2 separate regions of the Homo sapiens genome follow, and region 2 is linked to region 1. The links come from fine-mapping of genetic effects on gene expression. Tissue or cell type: lymphoblastoid cells. Region 1 holds a variant in brackets; the other region holds the start of a gene. All regions are shown on one strand. Distances are from middle to middle.

Region 1 (8,106 bases):
GAACTGTCTAATTCTCACTTGTGTGTAAAAAAAAAAAAAGAAAAAGGAAAAAAAAATTTTACAAATCAAAAAACTGTTGGGCAGAAAGTTTGGGGAAACTAACCAGAATTCAAGTGTAACCCTGGTGTGATTTAGAGTTAGGGGAGAGAACAAGGAAAATCTTACTAGGGCTCCATTTTTAAAAAATCACAATTCCTCATGTAGTAGATTAGCTGAGACTAACAGAAAACCAGGAAATAGAAGCAAAAGGGAGATGCAGCTTCAGCAGAGCCGAAGTACACCAAGTGAAAAATGGCTAGAAACTGGGAATGAGGCTGGGACACATGCACATGACCTGCCCTCCAGATAGAGACTTTATTTGTTTTGACTGATTGATTGACACAGGTTCTTGCTCTGTCACCTGGGCTGGAGTGCAGTGGCACAATCATGGCTCACTGTAACCTTGAACTCCTGGGCGCCCGTGATCCTCTTGGCTCAGCCTCCCAAGTAGCTAGGGCTACAGGTGCACACCACCACGCTGGGCTAATTTCTGTATTTTTTGTAGAGGTAGATCTTGCTATGTTGCCAAGGCTGCAGGTACAGATTTTAAAGGAGGATTCAACCATCCAGCTATCAGACAGAAAGCAGAACCAAAGGAAATCCTCACTCACTCTGCTTGGTAACAAACACTGAATCTGAATAGCTATCACCCTGTTCAAAATTGAGCACGGAGAAAAAAAAATCAGCATGGGACCTATTAAAAAAACAAAACAAAACTATAAAACAAGTGAAAGAAAAAAGTATAATAGAGGTTCAGAAGTTTTGCATAGGTCCAAATGATTTTTTGCGGAAGCCAGGAAAAAGTTCTAGGAAATTGTTGGGTATCTTAAGTGGAAGTGAGTGAGTCATGAGCTCTGTAACAGAAGAAGATGAAGGTAGGCTAAGATGGAAGATAAACTAGGTGTGATGAAAGAGGAAAAAGAAAAGGAAGGGTTGAAAGGAAATGAAAAACACAGGATAAGGAGTAAAAAAGCAAAATTAATTCTGTCAAATTAAAATTAGCAAAGGAAGACAAATGTAAATAAATTTCTCAGGCCAGGCACGGTGGCTCATGCCTGTAATTCCCGCATTTTGGAAGGCCGAGGCAGGCGGATCACCCGAGGTCAGGAGTTCAAGACCAGCCTGGCCAACATGGTGAAACCCCCGTCTCTAATAAAAATACAAAAAATTAGCTGGGTGTGGTAGTGGGCACATGTAATCCCAGCTACTTGGGAGGCTGGGTCAGGAGAATCGCTTGAATCCAGGAGGTGGAGTTTGCAGTGAGTGGAGATCGCACCATTGCACTCCACCCTGGGCAACAGAGTGAAACTCCGTCTCAAAATAAATAAATAAATAAAAATAATAAATAAATAAATTTCTCAGATGCAGAGGATAAAGACAAAGACCAAAAAAAATGCTCACGAAAAGACAAAGATGCATATTCAAAAACATTCATCAACATTGTTACTTCTGATAGAAAAGAAAATCGAATCAAGCTAAATGTGTAACTAGAGGACCAATTAAATAAATTGTAGGATATTCATACATATAAGGTAGGTTTCCTTTTGGCTGCAAGCAGAAGAATACACACCCACTATCTCCCATTAAAAGAGTACTACCACAGAATCGCTCATAGAAAAAGATGTCTGGGTAGGCAGGTCCAGTTTTGATGCAGCGGTTAAGGATGTCATCTCAGACTAAAGTTCTTTCTGCCTCTCTGTTCTCATCCTCAGCATGTTGGCCTGTCACTTTTAGGCTCGTCAATTTGTGGTCACAGTACAGCTGGAATGGCTTCAAGTACCACATTCTCCTTTGATTGATTCAAAGGCAGGAAGCAGGGTTGCAGGTAGGGCAGTAAAAGCCTTGGTCGTCAGAACATCTTTTTCATCATTCCCTGCAGACTTCTTTTTAGAGTTCATTGATCAGAGCTGGCACATTTGGCCACCTCTTGCTGTAAAGGCTTAGGGAAACGAGTGTCTGCTGTTCTCAGTCTCTGCATTAACAAGGGAGAAAGGGGCTGGGGATGGCCTCTGGGTGGTCAAAAATATAACATGAGTACTCCATTGCTATTCAAAATGATATACATCAATCTTTGACTGCATCTCTGATTATTTCCTTAAGATAGAGTCTTGAATAGGAATTTCTAGGTAAATCATCATGAGCCTTTAAAAAGTCCTGGTTATGTCATGCAGTTGATTTCCAGAAAGCCAACAGAAATAGATATGTGTCAACATGTATATCTCCTGATGCCCGCACCAGTACTGAGTGAAAAACTTTGCTGAATGTTCCTGTTTGTCTGAACTTAAAAGGAGCACATGCATAGAACAAAGAGCCAGCATTTGTTAAATAGCAAAGATAAGCTCATCGAAACTAAGATAAAATAGGCCAGGCACGGTGGCTCACACCTGTAATCCCAGCACTTTGGGAGGCCGAGGTGGGTGGATCACTTGAGGCCAGGAGTTCGAGACCAGCCTGGCCAACACGGTGAAACCCTGTCTCTACTAAAAATACAAAAACTATCAAGGCGTGATGGTGCACATCTGCAGTCCTAGCTACTCATAAGGCTGAGGCAGGAGAAACACTTGAACCCAGGAGGTGGAGGTTGCAGTGAGCCGAGATTTGTGCCACTGCAATCCAGCCTAACCAATAGAGTGAGACTCTGTCTCAAAACAAAAAAAGGAAAAAAAGCCTAAGATAAAGCAAGAATGTTTCCTGTCCTCCCTCATTTCTGTTTAACAGAGATACTAACCATAGAATCATTGGATTCTTAAAAAAATGAGGAACAAATATAGGGAAAAAATAACAATACAGCAGGATTTTTGGATGACATGATCATAATTAGACCATGCAAGTAAAAAAAAAACACCTAAAAATCTATAAGGGAAATAAGGGGGGAGTGGAGAAATAGAAGAAATGAGATAAGCAAAATGTCGATAATTGTTGAAGCTGGATGATGAGTATTTGTGCAAGTTTTAAACTTTTTATAATAAAAGTTGTTTTTCCAATCTTATTGTGTTAAAATATAAATAACATAAAATTTACCATCTTAGCCATTTTCAAGTGTACAATGCAATGGTATTAAATACATTCATAATGCCATATGACCATTACCACCATCCAGCTCCAGGACTCTTTTCACCTTGCAAAACTGAAATGCTGTACCCATTAAACTCCCCATTTCCTCCTCCTTCTGGTCTCTGGCAACCACCATTCTACTTTATGTTTTTATCCATTTGACTATTCCAAGCCTTATATAAGTGGGATCATACAGTATTTGTCTTTTTTAGACTGGCTTCTTTCACTTAGCATAATATCCCAAGGTTCATCACATTGTAGTGTATGTCAGAACTGCCATCTGTATTAGTCCATTTTCACACTGCTGATAAAGACATACCCGAGACTGGACAATTTACAAAAGAAAGAGGCTTATTGGACTTATAGCTCCACATAGCTGGGGAGGCCTCATAATCACAGTGGAAGGCAAGGAGGGGCAAGTCACATCTCACATGGATGGCAGCAGGCAAAAAGAGCTTGTGCAGGGCAACTCTCATTTTTTAAAGCGTCAGATCTCATGAGACCCATTCACTATCATGAGAACAGCAGGGGAAAGACCTGCCCCCATAATTCAATCGTCTGCCGCTGGGCCCTTCCCACAACGCACAGGAATTGTGGGAGCTACAAGATGAGATTTGGGTGGGGACACAGAGCCAAACCATCTCACTATCTGTTTTTTTTGTTTTTGTTTTTGTTTTTTTGAGACGGAGTCTTTCTGTTGCCAGGCTGGAGTGCAGTGGCGCAATCTTGGTTCACTGCAACCTCTGCCTCCTGGGTTCAAGTGATTCTCCTGCCTCAGCCTCCTGAGTAGCTGGGATTACAGGCACAAGCCACCACACCCAGCTAATTTTTGTATTTTTAGTAGAGACGGGGTTTCACCATGTTGGCCAGGATGGTCTCAATCTGTTGACCTCAGGTGATCCACCCACCTCGGCCTCCCAAAGTGCTGGGATTACAGGCGTGAGCCACCACACCCGACCTTTATATATATATACATTTTTTTTTTAATCAACACAAATATTTTAAAATACCATACACTTAAAAGGAAGTTCAATTCATATCTTAGACGTCAGGAATAAAGGAGTGGCACTTTCTGTTGTCCACCAGTTTTCCTGTTTCTAATCTGAATATTCTTTCCTAAAAAGATGGATGTGGGCCAGGTGTGGTGGCTCATGCCTGTAATCCTAGCACTTTGGGATGCCAAGATGGGCAGATCACTTGAGGTCAGGAGTTTGAAGCCAGCCTGGCCACCATGGTGAAACCTTATTTCTACTAAAAGTACAAAAAAAATTAGCCAGGTGTGGTGGTGGGCACCTGTAATCCCAGTTACTTGGGAAGCTGAAGTAGGAGAACTGCTTGAACCTGGGAGGCGGAGGTTGCAGTGAGCTGAGATCACACCAGTGCACTCCAGCCTGGGCAACAGAGAGAGACTCCATCT[CA/C]AAAAAAAAAAAAAAAAGAAAGATGGATGTGACAGATGGTTGACATAGTATTAAAGGTGCCTCCTGAGCCATGACTCAGCTATGTTGGTGGCCCTGCTAAATTTGTGGCCAGGGCACCTCCTCCCTTTCCCCCAAACTGGTTTCATCTCCCTCGAAGCTGGTTTCTCTCCCTCAAAGCTACTACTGCAGAATTAGGGGCTTATTTGGTATGGGTTTATTACTTCCTGTGACTTAGAATCTTGGAGAATTCAATACTTTTTAATTTAGCTTCTTTGTTTTATCTAATAAGTTTAGTAGATTAAAATATTCTTCTGGCCAGGTCAGGGTCTAACCACTATAGGGTATCTTCAACTCAATGTACATTTTAACCGAAACACACTCAGCATCTCACCTAAACACGATCAATATGGGCCTCTATTGTATCTTTTTCCAAGGTAATATGATCCTGACAATATTCTCTGGAAAAATTTCACTCATAGACTAACCCATATTTTTGTTTTTCCTCATTCCCACCCTCAAAGGTAATATGAATGCAAATAAAATTTAAAAGAACCTCCCATGGAGAGGAGACATTGCCATTTTCCATGAGGTACAGAAGCCCACGTTTCTGAGTTGGTGGACACAGTGGCACAAGTAGGAAGTTTTAGTTTTGAGGGTTCCTTTCTTCTCCCTCTTCACGTCAATGTACTTTGGTTGTCTAAAATGCGTTGAAAGCCTTATTTTCTGTACTTTATGTCTCTCACAATGTCATCTAAAAACATTAATTGGCATTACAACATTAATCTTGCTTTTACATAATTTTAAAAAAATTAATTATTTTTTTTTCTTTTGAGACAGGGTCTTGCTCTGTTGCCCAGGCTGGAATGCAGTGGCACAATCACAGCTCACTGCAGCCTCGACCTCCGGGGCTCAAGCCATCCTCCCACCTCAGCTTCCCAAGTAACGAGACTACAGGTGTACACCACCATGCCCGTCTAATTTTTTTTTTTTTTTTTTTTGTAGAGATGGGCTTTCACCATGCTGTGTCGGCCATTACCCAACTCCTGGGCTTAAGTGATCCACCTGCCTCAGCCTCCCAAAGTGCTGGGATTACAAGCCTGAGCCACCGCGCCCAGCTGTTAATCGTGACTTAATACATGTGCATCTTCCCCTGTTTCCTGTGTTTGCTTTCATAAGTCCACTGCTCCTGCTGTGAAGATGGGTACATTCATCTGTCATAGCTTAATGACACCACCTTAAAATTTGCAGATGGGTTCATATACATCTTATTATTCACTCACTCATATATTAAAAAATATTTAAGTATCTACTATGTACCAGGCACTGTGCTGGGTCCTGGGGATACAGAGATGAAAAAGATACCAGGAGGCTGGGCGTGGTGGCTCACGCCTGTAATCCCAGTACTTTGGGAGGCCAAGGTGAGTGGATCACTTGAGGTCAGGAGTTCGCGACCAGCCTGGCCAACAGGCTGATGGTGAAACTCCATCTCTACTAAAAATACAAAAACTAGCCGGGCGTAGTGGTGCATGCCTGTAGTCCCAGCTACTTGGGAGGCTGAGGCAGGAGAATCGCTTGAACCTGGGGGAGTGGAGGTTGCAGTGAGCCAAGATCGTGCTTGGGCGACAGAGCAAGACTCTGTCTCAAAAAAAAAAAAAAAAAAAAAGACACCAGAAGCTCACAGACTTGATGGACAGGCACATAAGCCAATAAAATGTGTTCAAAGCAAACTTCTGATAATGGCTTGGTTTCTAAAGAGACTTTTTTTAAAAAACTGGGAAGTCAGGATATTGACTAATGGACACTGGAATTTTGTTCATTTGACAGTTTTATTGTGTGTGTGTGTGTGTGTGTGTGTGTGCATAAAAAATGAATACATTTATATTTTGGCTTATGTCCTATGTCTTAAGAGCATGGCTAGCACTTAATCTTTAATACGGGTAACTGGACAAATGTAAGGTTGTGACCCTTAAACTTGAACCCCATATGCATTCCCCCCTGGCGATCACACCAAGGCTCAGACAAGCAGGGCAGTCTGGTCTGGTCCGTCGACTGTCCTCTTTCTCCTTCTCAACATATAGAACATCCCATTGGTCACAAATGCTGGATAAATGAAGGATTGCAAAAGCTCAAACTTTTTTCTTTTTTGCTTGCATTGATGTTGTAATTAACACATAGGAGCTGAGCTTTTTCCTGTGCTGACTTGTAATTTTGGCATCGTTCAAACTGGAAACGGGTTCTAATGGTATCAGTGTTATTTCCTGGGCAATAAATATCTAAAATAGAGAAGTGAGTCATAGGCCCAATGAAACTTATGAACCAAGATTAGTCACGCGGATAGTGGAGCTGCTTAACATCAATATAACTTTCTCTTCAGGTCGTTTCCCACAAAATTGGGTGGAAAAACCCACTCCTATTGCTCAGTTGGGCAGTTGCAACGATGAGCTAAATCAATTGTACTCTGGCAGTACTGTAGTAATAGCTGTAGTTTAAAAAATCACGGTAGTTAATCCACTTTGTTTCAAACTCTTCTATATGCTTTAAAAGGTATGAATTGGCAGGGCGCGGTGGCTCACGCTTGTAATCCCAGCACTTTGGGAGGCCGAGGTGGGCGGATCATGAGGTCAGGAGATTGAGACCACGGTGAAACCCCGTCTCTAATAAAAATACAAAAAAAAAAAAAATTAGCCGGGCGTGATGGCATGCGCCTGTAGTCCCAGCTACTAGGGAGGCTGAGGCAGGAGAATGGCATGAACACAGGAGGCGGAGCTTGCAGTGAGCCGAGATCTCGCCACTGCCCTCCAGCCTGGGCGACAGAGCGAGACTCCGTCTCAAAAACCAAAAACCAAACCAAACCAACCCCCCCCCCAAAAAAAACCAGAAAACAAAAAGGTATGAATTATTAGGGATATAATATCCAATTAAGAAGAAAGATGTTAAAAAATGACTCAGAACTATGGCAAAAACTATTCTATTTTGGAGGTGTTTTGAAATTAATTTTAATTTATGGGTGTTTTGGAATGAAGCAGTCCTGTCCTCTCAAAAAGCAAACAAACAAACAAAAGGGCATTGTGATTTTGATTGCTTTAGAATGTCAGTAGGACTAGTTAGTCAAAGTCTATTTCTAAAACATACCTCCTTTTCGTCATTGCAAAGGAGAAGTACACTTTACTTTCAAGGCTGACTTTGGGCATTGAGAACACAGAAAGATGATTTCCTACATTCTTAGCTAATTAATTTTAAGTGTAGCTGGAAGCCTGGTGAGGCAGAACTTAAAGAAGATGCTACTTCTTGACTTTTAAGCAGAGGCAGCAAATCACTTACAGTAAAAATTACTCAAGGAAATCACTCAATTGGCTTTTTTTGCTATGGAATTGTGACTTTTTTCCTATAATGCCCTAGGGAAAGAATATAACTGTACCTCCCTTCCTTCCAATTTCTTCAATGTCCATAGCTTTAAAGAAGAGGTCAAAATTTTGTATAAAGGACTCAAGAACCTCTCGAAAGGACAAGCTCTAAGAGTCCAATCTCTTACCACTCTCAGCGTCAAGGTTAGGGCACCTTCATTGGAAGGAAACTGCACGGTCCAGTTCTAGAC
Region 2 (8,106 bases), 92 kb before region 1:
TCTCTTCTTGCTCAGTTCCCTAAATTAGCTGGGGGGATTGGGATACTTTACAATTTTTACATTTTTAAATTTGAAGAATTTGTTTTAAACTTACTTGGTAATGGCACTTCTACTTACTGACCAACTTTTCAGCTCTTTTTGACCAGGATGGTTGCAAATTAGGGAAAATATCTTTATACTATACATCCAATTCAAGAGGACTTTAATTACTTAAAAGCATTTAGGTCATAATTAAAATTATTTTCACTGTTTCCATAAAATAAGCATTATGATTGCACACTCCTTCTACTGTCTGAATTTATGTAAGAGGTATAGCTTGCTTAAAATACATATATATGTAAAGTTATATTTTCTTAGAAACATGGATGTTTACAGCCATTGCTTTCAAAGAGATTATTACTGTGTATTCTCCCTGTTTTACAATATGTTTTCATGAAGACTATGTTACACCAGAGGCTTCTGATTATCAAAGTGATAACCAGTTTTAACTGCCGGTATGTACCAGATTTGTGAACTAATTTAAAAAACCACAAACTATGAATAAAATGGGGTTTGCAAACTAAATATCATTAATGATTTTCACTTGCGTTTACTGATGAGATTAATCAATAAAGCCATTTACATTTAGTGAAAGCAAATTTCCTCAAGTGATCTCCCTGGTAGCATGTTTACTCACTATGTGGAGTGGAGATAAGAATTACTTTATTGCTACAGATATTTTACAATTAGTATTTCTATGTAAGCACATAGGCTATTATCAAGGACAATTTATTTAGCACTTATTTTGAAATTATATGTAAACATGCAAACAAATAAGAACCCAAGAGTATAAACTCTATGACAAAAGTCAGTATGCAAGCATTAAGAACTCTTTCAGAAATGTGTATTTAAAATGACCAGAATTCCCAGATCATTTGAAAGCTGCCTCTTAAATGCCTCTTATCAATTCATCTTAAATGTTTGCTATATTAAATTCTTTATCCCTGAGTGCCTTCATTTGACTTCCAATTACGTATTTTCAACTATTAATTGGCTATCCCATTATGTTAAAATTAAATATGTACATAACTCAAAATCTTTCACTACCAACTAATTTCTGTTTCTCTCAATATCAGTGATATCACCATTCTCTTAAGTATCTCTATTTCAAACCTTTGAGTCTTGAGTCTCCTTTTCCATAATTTCCTTTATCCAGTCTGTTTAGTGGAATTCAAGCTTGTTCTCTCAGGACTGATTTGAGAAACCTAAGCATTCCTAGCCCACCTCTGGGGTAAGCTCGCCATCTCTGGACTGTTTGAGCTATGCATTCCTATAATTTAACTACACTTAAGTCAAAAGTATATTCAAGACACAAACTCGCTATTCTTTGAAAAATGCAAAACAGGGTTTAAGCAAGCATACCTAAGTGCACAACAGATCCGGAAGATCACCTCATACTTTATACCAAAGTCTAATTTAGATCCAGTTATTAAGTTCAAATGCAGCAAAAGCAGCAAGATATTTTAGCCAACTCAAAAACATTTTTATAATAATTTATAAGTCCTGGGCGGGCATGGTGGCTCGCGCCTGTAATCTCAGCACTTTGGGAGGCCGAGGCAGGTGGATCACCTGAAGTCAGGAGTTTGAGACCAGCATGACTAACATGGTGAAACCCCGTATCTACTAAAAACACAAAATTAGCTGGGCATGGTGGCACGTGCCTGTAATCCCAGCACTCGGGAGGCTGAGGCAGGAGAATCGCTTGAACCTGGGAGGTGGAGGTTGCAGTGAGCCGGGATCATGCCACTGCACTCCAGCCTGGGCGACAGAGTGAGACTCCATCCCCAAATAATAGTAATAAGTCCTTTCAGTAATTACAATTATTCTTTCATTGCTTCTTCCAATTGTTAATTCATAAGTTGTACATAATTGTAACAATATAATTGCTCTCTTCATATTATTTAAAATATGCCTTTTCATTCAATCTAGAAATTTTATATTTCTCAATTATATTGCTTACATATTATTCTGATAGACAGCTGTACCTGCTTAAACATTCCAATTTAAGTAGGCATGAAATAGTACATCCAATCTGTTTTAGTTTTCCAAATTAATTGTTAGCAAGATTAGCCCCCATTTTTTTTTTTTTTTAACAGATGGGAGTCTCATTATGTTGCCCAGGCTGGTCTCAAACTCTTGGGCTCAAGTGATTCCCCCACCTCAGCCTCTCAAGCATTGCTGGGACTACAGGCATGCACCACCGCTCCTGGCTAAAATCTTGTTTTAAGTTTCTTCCCTCCAACTTCCTCTTGCGTTCTTGGTGTTCTCTAACCATCTCTACAGGGGGGAGGTGGTGATACACAGCACATGCTTCCTCCTTATCTAATGTCACCTTCAGTTCAGAAACGATATGTTTTCTAATTAAAAGACAACTTTACAAGAGAAGCGTGCCTAACAAAATGTGTAGATGACTTTTTATTCATTGATTCAAAAGACATACATTCAGCCCCCGCTATTTACTGGATATTAAGCTCTGGGGCTACATGGAAGGACCACGCAGACACTCTTCATGCCTTCAACGGCTTACAGTTAAGTTTTTCAAACATTTGAAACATAACGAAGCTTTTGGTTACTTAAAAGAATTCTATGGTATTAGGGAGCAACACCTGTTTTGTAAACCTATATCTTCATACAGGGAATATGCTTAATCTTGCTACAGTATACATGAATGCGGGAATGTATCTTCCTCTGGGCTGCCTTTCGTTACCACTTGGCTGGGTGGAACACCTGTTCACTCCACTTTCCACTTGGGCTACAAACCTGAAACGAAATCTTTGCAACCAGTACAGCCTGCGCGGGGCGCGGCCCAGTCCATCCCCCTTCGGATGCGCAGAAGCAGAGGTCACCACGCCGGACCCCTCGATTCCCTCGCGGGCGATTCCTGGCTCCTTCACCACCCCAGCACTCCAAGACCCCCGCCCTTTGGCCTGAGGCTCCCACTGCCCTAGCCAGTTCCCGGGCTCACTTCCAGCTTTTCCAGAAAGCTTGGCCACGCCCCTCGGCCCAGACTCTCAGGCCACTCGGCCGCAATTAACCCGCGTCTCTGCGCCTTTTTAGGCCCCTCCCCCTCGGTCGTGCCCTTGTCATCTCTTAGGCCCCGTCTCACCCTTTCGGATGCCTCCCCTAGAACCCTACCACTTTCCACCCCTTTCCGTCTGTTATTTCTCCCAAACTTGCGCCCGCACAGGCCCCTCTGGAACACTCCTGCCCCGTAGTGCCCCTCGTCCCCGCTCCGTAGAGAAAGAGCGTGCGTGCCGCGCATTTCTGGCCTGGGGAGCGGGTGGAGTAAACCTGCGGGAACCATTTTACGACAACGTGCGGCTGTGCGGTGTGGCTGACGGCAACGCCGCTGCTCTTGGAGAGGTCACTCCGGAGACGGCGTTGGTTTTGGGGTGTGGGGGGTTGGTGGCACTATGTGGCGCGTCTGTGCGCGACGGGCTCAGAATGTAGCCCCATGGGCGGGACTCGAGGCTCGGTGGACGGCCTTGCAGGAGGTACCCGGAACTCCACGAGTGACCTCGCGATCTGGCCCGGCTCCCGCTCGTCGCAACAGCGTGACTACAGGGTATGGCGGGGTCCGGGCACTGTGCGGCTGGACCCCCAGTTCTGGGGCCACGCCGCGGAACCGCTTACTGCTGCAGCTTTTGGGGTCGCCCGGCCGCCGCTATTACAGTCTTCCCCCGCATCAGAAGGTGAGCCCTAGACCCCCCTTCTCGGGACCCCGTTGTCCTTCAGAGCTGACTGGATGCCTGCAAGATCCTCCTTGAGAGGCCTCACTGATCCTCCACCCATTCCCAGTATCTGCTTTGGCCCTTTGTCCAATAGTTGGCTTTGCTGTAGCTCCTTAGTGTCCCTCTCATGATCTATTTCATTGAAAGGAGAGCTTCAAGACTGGGGCTGTATGCAGAATATCTGCCGAGGTTCATGCTTTGTCAGACCCACAGGACTGTGGAGGAGAAAGCCTGTCACTGGAAATTACTAACTTCTCATGGACAGGAACTCCCTTGGCATCCCTAGTTCCCAATGTGCAATGGAACTGTATACACTTTGCATGAAATTGAATTGAATGAAATCTTAAGCCAGACTGAGAGTTAGGTAGTCCTTAAAAATTTTAATGTTTCTTCTTTTCCTTTTCCAGGTTCCATTGCCTTCTCTTTCCCCCACAATGCAGGCAGGCACCATAGCCCGTTGGGAAAAAAAAGAGGGGGACAAAATCAATGAAGGTGACCTAATTGCAGAGGTAAGTTTTTTTTTTTTTTTTTAATTAATTTATTTATTTTTTTTATTGATCATTCTTGGGTGTTTCTCGCAGAGGGGGATTTGGCAGGGTCATAGGACAATAGTGGAGGGAAGGTCAGCAGATAAACAAGTGAACAAAGGTCTCTGGTTTTCCTAGGCAGAGGATCCTGCGGCCTTCCGCAGTGTTTGTGTCCCTGGGTACTTGAGATTAGGGAGTGGTGATGACTCTTAAGGAGCATGCTGCCTTCAAGCATCTGTTTAACAAAGCACATCTTGCACTGCCCTTAATCCATTTAACCCTGAGTGGACACAGCACATGTTTCAGAGAGCACAGGGTTGGGGGTAAGGTCACAGATCAACAGGATAAGAATTTTTCTTAGTACCGAGCAAAATGAAAAGTCTCCCATGTCTACCTCTTTCTACACAGACACGGCAACCATCCGATTTCTCAATCTTTTCCCCACCTTTCCCCCCTTTCTATTCCACAAAACCGCCATTGTCATCATGGCCCGTTCTCAATGAGCTGTTGGGTACACCTCCCAGACAGGGTGGTGGCCGGGCAGAGGGGCTCCTCACTTCCCAGTAGGGGCGGCTGGGCAGAGGCGCCCCTCACCTCCCGGGCGGGGCAGCTGGCCAGGCGGGGGCTGACCCCCCCACTTCCCTCCCGGACGGGGCGGCTGGCTGGGCGGGGGGCTGGCCCCACCACCTCCCTCCCAGACGGGGCGGCTGGCCTGGCGGGGGCTGACCCCCACCTCCCTCCCGGACGGGGTGGCTGCCGGGCGGAGACGCTCCTCACTTCCCAGACGGGGTGGCTGCCGGGCGGAGGGGCTCCTCACTTCTCAGACGGGGTGGCTGCCGGGCGGAGGGGCTCCTCACTTCTCAGACGGGGCGGTTGCCAGGCGGAGGGTCTCTTCACTTCTCAGACGGGGCGGCCGGGAAGAGACGCTCCTCACCTCCCGGACGGGGTCGCGGCCGGGTAGAGGCGCTCCTCACATCCCAGACGGGGCGGCGGGGCAGAGGCGCTCCCCACATCTCAGACGATGGGCGGCCGGGCAGAGGCGCTCCTCACTTCCTAGATGGGATGGCAGCCGGGCAGAGACGCTCCTCACTTTCCAGACTGGGCAGCCAGGCAGTGGGGCTCCTCACGTCCCAGACGATGGGCGGCCAGGCAGAGACGCTCCTCACTTCCCAGACGGGGTGGCAGCCGGGCAGAGGCTGCAATCTCGGCACTTTGGGAGGCCAAGGCAGGCGGCTGGGAGGTGGAGGTTGTAGCGAGCCGAGATCACGCCACTGCACTCCAGCCTGGGCACCATTGAGCACTGAGTGAACCAGACTCCGTCTGCAATCCCGGCACCTCGGGAGGCCAAGGCTGGCGGATCACTCGCGGTTAGGAGCTGGAGACCAGCCCGGCCAACACAGCGAAACCCCGTCTCCACCAAAAAAATACGAAAACCAGTCAGGCGTGGCGGCGCGTGCCTGCAATCGCAGGCACTCAGCAGGCTGAGGCAGGAGAATCAGGCAGGGAGGTTGCAGTGAGCCGAGAAGGCAGCAGTACAGTCCAGCTTCGGCTCAGCATCAGAGGGAGACCGTGGAAAGAGAGGGAGAGGGAGACCGTGGGGAGAGGGAGAGGGAGACGGAGAGGGAGAGGGAGAGGGTAAGTTGTTTTAAAGTAACGGAGATGAGTTCGAAGAGACTGGCTTTGCCTAATTGACTGAACATTGACTTTCTGGATGTGTAGCTACCCCTTTGTTTAAGAAACTGAAGTGTTTTTCACAACTTGATGTTAGACAAGATTGGTTGGATAAGTTGTCAGCAGCTGGCCAAACTGATTTTAACCAAGGCGTTTCTAAAGTAATTTCTTCTTTGAAATCTGTCGTAGTGGCCTTATCTTCACATGAACTGTATAATTCTAGACACAAAGGCCAGGCTGGCCAACATGGTGAAACCCCGTCTCTGCTAAAAATACAAAAATCAGCCGGGCATGGCAGCCTGTTCCTGTAATCCCAGCTACTCGGGAGGCTGAGGCAGGATAATCGCTTGAACCTGGGAGGGGGAGGTTGCAATGAGCCGAGATTGCACCACTGCACTCCAGCCTTGGTGACAGAATGAGACTCTGTGTCTCAAAAAAAAAAAAAAAAAAAAAAAAATTCTAGACACAAGCTAATAAATTACATACCAACAGTACAAACCTGAGCTACTGCTTTTTGTGTTAAAAGGTTGAAACTGATAAAGCCACTGTTGGATTTGAGAGCCTGGAGGAGTGTTATATGGCAAAGATACTTGTTGCTGAAGGTACCAGGGATGTTCCCATCGGAGCGATCATCTGTATCACAGTTGGCAAGTGAGTAGTGCGCTCATAATTTGTGGAACTTCATTGCTTGGTGGAGTATTTTACCCAGAATTGAGAATTAGGAGTTAAAGACTATTTTTTAAGACTACTTTTGTGAAAGCTGAATCTGCCCATTATATTTATGCATTCTTTCTCTTCCTTAGGCCTGAGGATATTGAGGCCTTTAAAAATTATACACTGGATTCCTCAGCAGCACCTACCCCACAAGCGGCCCCAGCACCAACCCCTGCTGCCACTGCTTCGCCACCTACACCTTCTGCTCAGGCTCCTGGTAGCTCATATCCCCCTCACATGCAGGTGAGGCTCAGCCTCTGAGTTTTTGCTCTAGGTGATTACTTACTTACTCACTTTTTTTCATAGATGGCTACTACATCTTGGAAACTGACATTAAATGTGGTTAGGTCTTGTCATTTGGGAGTATATAGGTTTAAACATGAAGATTGACAACTATTCTTCCTGGTTGTTATTTCCAGTTATAAGAACTTGAACAGTTCCTGTAACCTTTCTCAGCCTCAGTGTAGTACACAGGGTAATGCGTGGCACTTTTCATTCAAGAACATTACATTACAGATTTTGAGGATGATTTTTACTAACATCTATTCCCTGTATAATTAGAGTTTATAGCAGGCTGTGTTAGTCTGTTTTACTTTGGCATGAAGAAATACCTAGGGCTGGGTAATTTATAAAGAAAAAAGGTTCATTTGGCTCAAGGTTCTGCAGGCTGTACAAGAAGCAGGGCGCCAGCATCTGTTTCTCTTGTGGCCACAGGAAGCTTACAATCATGGTGGAAGTTGGAAGGGAAAGGGGAAGGGTGGTGTGTCCCATGAGAGAGGGAACAAGAGACAGAGGGGAGTGGGTAACCAGGCTCTTTATAGCAATCAGATTTCCCCTTAACTCATTACCATGGGGCATGCAGCAAGCCATTCACGAGGGATCCTCCTCCAATACCCAGACACCTGCCACCAGACCCCATCTCTAACATTGGGGATCATATTTCTTTTTTTTTTTTTCCACATACAAAAAAACTTTATTTACACAGTCTTGGATTCTGAATCTCCAGTACTTCCAGGGTCTCTTGATCAAATGGGGCAGCAGCAGGCAGGGAAGCAAACACAGGGGCCAGTCCAGATTATCTTACTCAAGAACACCACCAAGAAGGGAAGGCCTAATTCAGTCTTGGTCTGGACTACATCTCCCCGCACTTTGAGATCACCACAGTAGTTTGGGCTTATTGTTGGGGCCTGTGGGAACATTCTGAATCTTTCTCATCACTAGAAGTCCATCAGTGATTTTTCCAAACATTACATGCTTCCCATCCAGCCAATCACACTTAGAGCAGGTGATAAAGAACTGACAGCCATTTGTACTGGGACCGCTGTTTGCCGTGGAAAGCAGGCCTGGAGCTGAGTGTCTAAGTTTAAAATTTTCGTCTGCGAATGTCTCCTGGTAAATACTGGCGACTCCAGTACCATCTCCAT

Alleles and levels. Alleles are on the strand shown, and positions count from the first base shown. SD is a standard deviation of normalised expression in the study named.
In carriers of allele CA in region 1, the expression in lymphoblastoid cells of the gene that starts at base 3,388 in region 2 tends to be lower than with C alone (small effect, 0.30 SD a copy in GEUVADIS).

What was found. PIP is the estimated chance that this variant, and not a neighbour inherited with it, causes the effect.
Region 2: DLAT starts here. The variant in region 1 is fine-mapped to the expression of DLAT in lymphoblastoid cells (GEUVADIS, PIP 0.94).

Annotation. Positions count from the first base shown.
Region 1 is chr11:112,113,779-112,121,884 of GRCh38, forward strand. No RefSeq gene overlaps it. Among named protein-coding and RNA genes, the nearest start is that of SDHD, 31 kb to the left of the region's middle. The variant CA/C (reference allele first, on the strand shown) is at 4,511.
Region 2 is chr11:112,022,021-112,030,126 of GRCh38, forward strand. DLAT (dihydrolipoamide S-acetyltransferase) reads left to right here and starts at 3,388. Exons shown (of 14, transcript NM_001931.5): 1 at 3,388-3,731; 2 at 4,178-4,279; 3 at 6,495-6,619; 4 at 6,772-6,925. The coding sequence starts at 3,453. It overlaps DIXDC1 (DIX domain containing 1), which reads left to right. Exons shown (of 20, transcript NM_001037954.4): 20 at 1-633. It also overlaps the pseudogene PPIHP1. RefSeq lists enhancers at 2,350-2,539, 3,190-3,389.